2 linked regions of the Homo sapiens genome follow. The protein of the gene in region 1 interacts with the protein of each later gene in a pairwise test. Each region holds a gene or a part of one and is shown on either strand. Other genes may lie near its edges. The genes, in order: SH2D1B and STAT4.

The links.
Region 2: the proteins of SH2D1B (region 1) and STAT4 interact in a two-hybrid assay, tested with the Homo sapiens proteins (one large-scale study listed by BioGRID and IntAct).

What each region holds. Positions count from the first base shown.
Region 1 is NC_000001.11:162,395,094-162,398,919, forward strand, and holds the end of SH2D1B (SH2 domain-containing protein 1B), read right to left. Parts: intron 2,223-3,826; coding exon 2,187-2,222; 3' UTR 175-2,186; downstream 1-174. UniProt on the Homo sapiens protein: Cytoplasmic adapter regulating receptors of the signaling lymphocytic activation molecule (SLAM) family such as CD84, SLAMF1, LY9 and CD244. In SLAM signaling seems to cooperate with SH2D1A/SAP.
Region 2 is NC_000002.12:191,028,912-191,032,697, reverse strand, and holds the end of STAT4 (signal transducer and activator of transcription 4), read left to right. Parts: intron 1-383; exon of another isoform or gene 384-526; intron 527-1,181; coding exon 1,182-1,248; intron 1,249-1,600; exon of another isoform or gene 1,601-1,617; coding exon 1,618-1,726; exon of another isoform or gene 1,727-1,813; intron 1,814-2,831; coding exon 2,832-2,858; 3' UTR 2,859-3,122; downstream 3,123-3,786. UniProt on the Homo sapiens protein: Transcriptional regulator mainly expressed in hematopoietic cells that plays a critical role in cellular growth, differentiation and immune response. Plays a key role in the differentiation of T-helper 1 cells and the production of interferon-gamma.

The sequences.
Region 1 (3,826 bases):
AAAGGAAAAAGACTTTTCTTCGCTTTATATGAACAGTGTAACCATGATTCAGTAAATTATAGTCCTATTTGGTTTATGAGTTTTAATGCAAAAATCTTAAATGAAATATTAACTTACCAAATTCCACAGTTTATGAAAAATAATAAAATATTATCAAGTGAAGCAATGCAAGGATGAAATGATATCAACAATTTTATTAAGGTAACTTACCTTTATAATGGAGTGAAGACAAAAGGAATGTGACTATCTCAATAGATTAGAGATAGAAAAAAATCACAATAAATGTCAAAATATTTCTAGTAAAAATTATAAAATAGCCTTTAACAAGGCTACAACAAACATAATGTTTAAATAAAGAAAATTTCTAAGCATTCCCTGTAATACTGGGAACAGTGTAAGAATACTCACTATCATGACTATGAACTGTTTAATGTATACAGGAGGCCCTAACCAATGGGTAAACATAAAAAATAAATGAGCATAGGTATTGCAAGGAAAGAGAAAATAAAATGTTATTATTTATAGCTGACAAAATCATTTACATAGAAAACACAATAGAATCAACAGGTAAACTAGTAGATCTAATGAGAGGGTTAACATTTCACCAACACCATATCCTATTAGAAATGTAATAAAACATAAGATATCATTTACAGCAACTAGAAATAGGAATTAATCTAACAGAATATACAAGACTTCAGTTGGGAAAATTTATGACTCCATGAAAGGGCAAAAAAGATGACCCAAGAACATGGATGTGGCATGTTTATGCATGGGAAAACATCACAAGAACGTCAGTTCTCTCCTATTTACAAATTTGTTGCAAGTTCATTAAAAATTCCAAAAAGAGGTTTTAAGCAATTTCACGTATTTATTATAAAATGTATATAGAAGAATCAAGGTCCATGAATACCTAAGCCAGTTTTGAAAAGTAAAAGAGGACATTTGTCCTACCTACCAGACCCAGGGAATAGTAGCCATAAATTGCTGTGACCCCAAATCTCACAATGCTCCACACTTTGGGGCTCCAGCCACAGTGTCTGTTCATCTGTTCATATTACCTCTAAGTCGAGAGCTCCTCTCTTTTAAAACTCTGAAGATAAGTCCAGTGGGGTGAAATACATTACTACAATTTGATGATAGGTAAGAGAAAGGGCATAGAATTTGGTATATTTCAAACTGACCAGGTCCTAATTCACATTTTGAACTAGCAGAAAAATTCAGCAAATCAATTTCAGTAAACCTTAAAAACCAATTCAACAAACCTCCCTCAGCAATGTGCTTCCAGTCAGTTTCTATGAACTAGGCACAGCTCTGGGCAGCACAAATTTCTACACACTGTGGAAGATACAAGGGAGACCCAACCGTGCTTTGATGGCACTTAGAACCTAGTTGGGAACAGAAATCACACATAGAATATTTTAGAAATCTCCACATACATCACTGTACAGAACCACATTCATGCTGTTGAAATGACTGATGCATAAGTGGAATTAAGCAAAACCAGGGAGAAAGTGTGGCTGGGGCAATGCTCACCAGGAAGTTTAAGATTAGAAAGAACCAGGAGGAGAGTAGCCCAGGCTGGAGGGAGAAGGGTGCACATGGGGGTCCAGCAGGTACAGAGAAGGTGCTGATCTGTATGCATCTCCATCACTCCCGATCCCTCACCTTCACCTGACACAAGCAGGCTCAACAGAGAGACTGGGGCAATGTTTATCATCCCACCCAACCACAGAGACAAAGAAACTAAGACCTGGAGATGGGCAGAAACGTGTTCAAAGTCACACAGCCACAGGACTGGAACTCAGGGCTTCAAACTCACAGACAAGTGTGCCCCTCCTCTGTATAAAGCTGCCCCTCTGACTGCATGGTCCAAAGGAGGGTGTCAACCATGATGTAGGGTGGTACCTTTAACAAGTCAAAGGGAAAATGTTCAGGCTGTCCCATTCCAAGAAAGAAGAGTGAAACTGGAGAGGGTTTTGAAATTGCTCCTGGTATATGTCTGGGAGGCGGGGATGTGGAGAGTGACCTCTGGTGCTGGTGGGCAGAACATCTTCAGTTACACAACCAGGAGAGTCTGAATTGTCCACTAGAGTTTGGTGCTCTGGACCTATGCCTGCAGAAGTGGGTCATCAGTGAGAACTGTTACTCATCTCTTCAACTTGCTTTGTCCGGCAGCCTTATCTTCAAGGCAAGACATCCACATAATCGCTGTTACTGTTCTTTGGAGGGAAAAAAAAAGCAGAAGACCAGCCATGAGACCACACCCAGAAGTCATATCAAACAACCCCACTCAAAGGAAAGAAGACCCCTCCCCAGGCACAGAGCCATGTTGATGCCACCTGAAAGTTGTATCTTTAAAGGCTGGGGTACTACAGGGAGCCCTCCTAACAAAATAGGAGATCTCTTTATAAGCCAAGCCTCAGACCTTCCAGCACAAGTGTCTCCATTCACCAGCAAGAAATCTGCACCTCCCTTGGAGTAAGAACATCTGAAGCTTCTTCTAAGGAAGCAATGGGAATGGGAGGAAGAGGTTGATGGGGAATATTTCCTCTTCAGTAGCTGAGAATTTTGGAGCCTGCTGTGTCAGCACTGACCCGGCATGGAAAACTGATGGAGTGAGATTCATGCCCAGGTCTTGGGGAAGATTTCTGAGGGTTCTCCTCCTGGGATTTATGATTCTTTTCTCATTGTTGAGACAAATGCTACCACCACCCCAACCAGTCCCAGCAACTCATCTGGGTTTGCCTAAGGGCTGCAGCACAGATACATTCCTGGGTTTCTAGATCTGCCACACTGTATACTTTTTATTCTATAAATTTGGGGGGGAAAGTAGCTGTGGGACTACATCTGCAGCTGGACCTATAGAAAGTGATTTTTTTGTGTCCATGAGTACACACTGCCCTTCATGGGGATGGGGGGACAGGGACACAATGGTAGGGAAGGGAGTTGTATTTTATGCTTAGCCTTGCTGGGGAAATGAGAAGCCGGCTATGGCAGCCTAAAGGGTGACTTTGCCGCAGACAGAGTAGAATGGGGATGGAGTGATTGCAGGCTCCCAGAGAACTCTCTGTCCTCTGTCCCTCTCCTAGGGAGGATATCTGATCTCATCCCATCACCTGCCACTGATAACTGCCATCCCTTTCACTGAGAATATAACCACACATTCCAACATGGGAAAACAGGATTAAGACCTAAGTGTTTCTGGAAGTCTGAGCTAAATTCAAACAACATTGCAACTGATAGTAAATTCTTTACTGAGAGCAGATTTCAAGAGTGTGGGTAAGGAAGAGTAGCTGCTCATGATATAATTTGAGAGGCTTAGGCAGGGATTCTCTGCACTCAGATTTACTGACCATCTCTCATTTTCCACTACGGCTTAATGCCTTTAAAAATGTATCTGACATAATTTGACACCCAGCACTTTATAAATGAATGCTTAGCAAATATTGAGCAAAGTGTAACAGTATACGCTTTGGGGAGGGCTTGAAGGGCTAGAGTGATTTTCTCATTTGAAAATCTGCCCATTTGCCCATTTATTCTCAAACTTGAATCGTCTGCACAAGGTCACAGAATGAATTTGAAGTCAGCTGTCTGCCCAGGAACCACTCTTGCTATCCTGGCTGCAAACGCAGCAAGCTCTCTGTCTTGGCCCTCAGGGACTAAAAGACAGCACTTCTCAACAAAATGGAAATTGCTCTTAGTAGGATGAAGCTTTTTAGAGATAATGTCACAGAAAAGAGCATTTGTCTGTATTGAGTTTACAAAGTAAGGCATTGGTGGAAATAGGATTAAGATTGCTTTCTGACCCCCACGTGAGAGATTT
Region 2 (3,786 bases), on another chromosome or scaffold:
CTTGGAGAGCTTCAGTTTTCTCCTTTGTAAGACAGAAGTGGTGCAGGCTTCATGTCTATGACTGAGGGAAAGGAAAAGAAAGAGGGGGTAATGATGAGAAGCTTTTAATAGTAAAACAAGTCTGTATATTGCAAAGGAACCCCAGGGTTTATAAGTTTTATATTTTTAACCTTACTGTAGTCTTACAACTCAGGGTATTTGTTCATTTGCTAGGGAGGGGACCTGTGGATCTCTGCTTCATCCTCTCCCTCCCCCACACTCCCAGCCTACCTTTCCTGGTTGTATCCTAGGACCTAGAGCAATGTCTGGCTAAAAGAGGGATTCAGTAAATATTTGTTGAATACATAAAAGAAAATTTGTTAAATTACTATGCAATTTTAAGGTACGTTCACCATTCTGTTTCTTTAATGAAAGTGTATACAATCCATAAAAATCTTCATCTATAGCACTAAATCTTTGGGCACCATCATGTAGAATATCCTACAGTTGTCACTCACAGACTTGCAGCCACCTGACTTCATGCCCTCTGAAATAAACAAAAATACAAAAGAAAATAAAATCAAACAAACCTGTGGCTTTTCAGTGACTTTCAACAACTGATAAAAATGAAATAACAAATATCAATGCAACAAATTAGGGTTGGAAAATTGGAACAAATACTAGTTCAACATGGTATACCAGAGAAGTTTGGGGAATTTTTCCAAGGTGAGGTTTGCACATGACTGTTACTACAGTACAATGATACTTTTGGGAACACTGACATCTGTACTTCAAGAACGTTTGCAATCATAAGATTCTGATTGGTGTCAATTTTAATGAAAAGAACTGGGTTATTATATCTCCCAAAACATGACTCAATCAGTCCTTATAATCAAACATAAATGAAACGTAGAAAACAGGTAATAGAGTTGATTCTCAATTTTTCCCACACAGTTTAGAGGCATTAATATGTAAAGTCAGATTAGGCCTGCCAAGAGATTTGTTTTTCTCTTCTTGCACATTTTATGCTTATCTAAAAGATTGTGTCCCCTATTTAACAAAACATTTCTGTGTATCACCGAACAACTGCGTTATCTCTCTTCCTCTTATCATTGTTAATATTTTTCTAGACTCTTTTTTCCCCAGTTTTATTGATAATATTGACATTTTTTTCCCCAACATTGTGCCTTTTTGTTTTCCAGTTTCAAGACCAACAGAAAGGGGTGACAAAGGTTATGTTCCTTCTGTTTTTATCCCCATCTCAACAATGTGAGTAATGTTAGTCACATGTGAAATATTTTTATAAAAAGCTTTCCTATAGGAGATTTAAAGGTAGAGCAGAGTACACATAACTGAGAACAAAGCATTGTAATGTGCAATGTCCCATTTCCTTTAATACATAAGGCTAGCCTTCAGGGCACACTTACCACAATCTATTGTGCCTAAAATTATAAAATTCCCCTTTTATATGCCATATATGCCACAGTAAGTTGAGTGTTCTGATATGAAATGATGAATTAGATAACTCAATGTCACAAATAGATGAAGCCCTAGAAATGAGTTCCTGACATAGTAAGTCACCGTGAACTATTATTATTTTTTAATCCTTGTCCATATTGACCTTGTTATCTCTTTAAGCCGAAGTGATTCAACAGAGCCACATTCTCCATCAGACCTTCTTCCCATGTCTCCAAGTGTGTATGCGGTGTTGAGAGAAAACCTGAGTCCCACAACAATTGAAACTGCAGTATGTTCCCTTTATTTTCCATTGCTGGTCAAAGGTGTTTCCAACGATGCAAAGGTGGTGTGTGAATCAAAGGGGCTGAAATACTGCCTGGGTAGGGAGAAAACACATTTATTGGAACAAATTCATGAGCATAACACAAAAGGTGTCTGGATGGTCCTGCGTGTTGCTGATATTATGCGTATTGAAAGCAGACACCTTCAGTTACTTAAACTGCTTTACGTTGTTTCCACCAGAAACCACCAGAGGGCAAAATATTCCTATACCCTACTCAAGCACACTATCGCTGCTTGCACCATGGGCCCCCTCACTCCCCACCACTCTCTACTTTAGCAAACACCATTTATTGGTCAATATTTATAAACCTAGTATACTATCTAGTTTACTAGTTACTTACTATCTAGTAAACCCAGTTTGCTATCTTAACAGTGCAAACATCACAAATTGCAATTTTTCTTGATTGTGACTTGCATTTCTAGAACCCGGAGCCTCATCAATAATATATGAATAACAGTCAATGGCATAATAATGCTCTCCTTTTTGAGAAATGAGTCATAATCTTTAATGCAATAATGTTATTTGGGATGCATGCTATTTGCTCTTATCCACCAATACTGTCAATGGGTTCAAACCCCCAATTTACATGAAAGTGAACATACATCAGAATAATATAATAGAAACTTGGAGAGACCCTAAGCCTCAAAAAATTTTTATCTGGCTGGCTTTTAGTCCTTCTCTTGAAGATTTCCATAGATGAAAAATTCACTTTACTTTGATAGCTTATTCTAATGTTAGTTCCCTTAAATCGTCAAGTTATTTATGTCTAACTGAACATTTGCTACATTTTGCACCCATTTCCTCATTATGTTTTTGGTGGATAAACAGGCCTTTTTCTTAAAACACTTTTCTGTCTCCTTGAAAGGTACCTTTTATTTTAGACTGATCAACCCCAATTACTTTTGCAAATACTTAGTTTAAGTATTTTAACTAGGTAATAGAAAAATTATGGAGTAATTCGTAGAAAAGAGGACGTTTATTTGCCCAAGAAATAGTGATTGATTTGAAAACCAGTAGTTTCCTCAAAGATTATTTTCATTTTTAATTTTAGATGAAGTCTCCTTATTCTGCTGAATGACAGGATAAACTCTGACGCACCAAGAAAGGAAGCAAATGAAAAAGTTTAAAGACTGTTCTTTGCCCAATAACCACATTTTATTTCTTCAGCTTTGTAAATACCAGGTTCTAGGAAATGTTTGACATCTGAAGCTCTCTTCACACTCCCGTGGCACTCCTCAATTGGGAGTGTTGTGACTGAAATGCTTGAAACCAAAGCTTCAGATAAACTTGCAAGATAAGACAACTTTAAGAAACCAGTGTTAATAACAATATTAACAGAAGACTCGCTTGCCTGTGTTTGGTTTATTTCTCATTTTGTCTCTCTGGTGTTACTACGATTTTAGCTAGAAGATGTAAGTGTTAATGTTTCAGGGTAGGTCAAGAATAATAAAGTCACACCTACACCTCAGCAAGAAGGCGTGAGGGAAAAGCCAAATAAGCCAATCAGTATGATGAACGCTAGCAGGCATGGTGATCACAGTAGATCCAAGAGGAAAGTCGTGATGGGACATTAGCAGAAATTCACGGGGCATCCAGGGTTGAATTATGAAGCCTCCTTAGTGCCATGTCAACGTTATTCCAACTATGGGGTTCAACAGCTGCTGGTTCCAAAGGAGGAGGGATCCAGAGTCATTCCTGGTGGTATCTTGGGCAAACTGCACTGATTTTACAGGTATTGTAAGCAGACACATGGGTTAAAAAAATAATAATTTAAAAAAACTCATGAGGACTAGGAGGATGAAATGAGGACTAGGAGAATAACAACTCTGGCCTTGGGTAACTGATTTTATTCATAGGTTGCTCATTCTTCATCTCTAGAAGAGGTAAGACTATGTGGGTTCTATGATCTTTCCCAGCTCTAATAGTCTCTCTGGTCCTAAGAATCCAACCTGAGACTGGGGAAAGAGGTTTAGGATGAGATGTTCCATTCCTTCAATTTTCTCTAG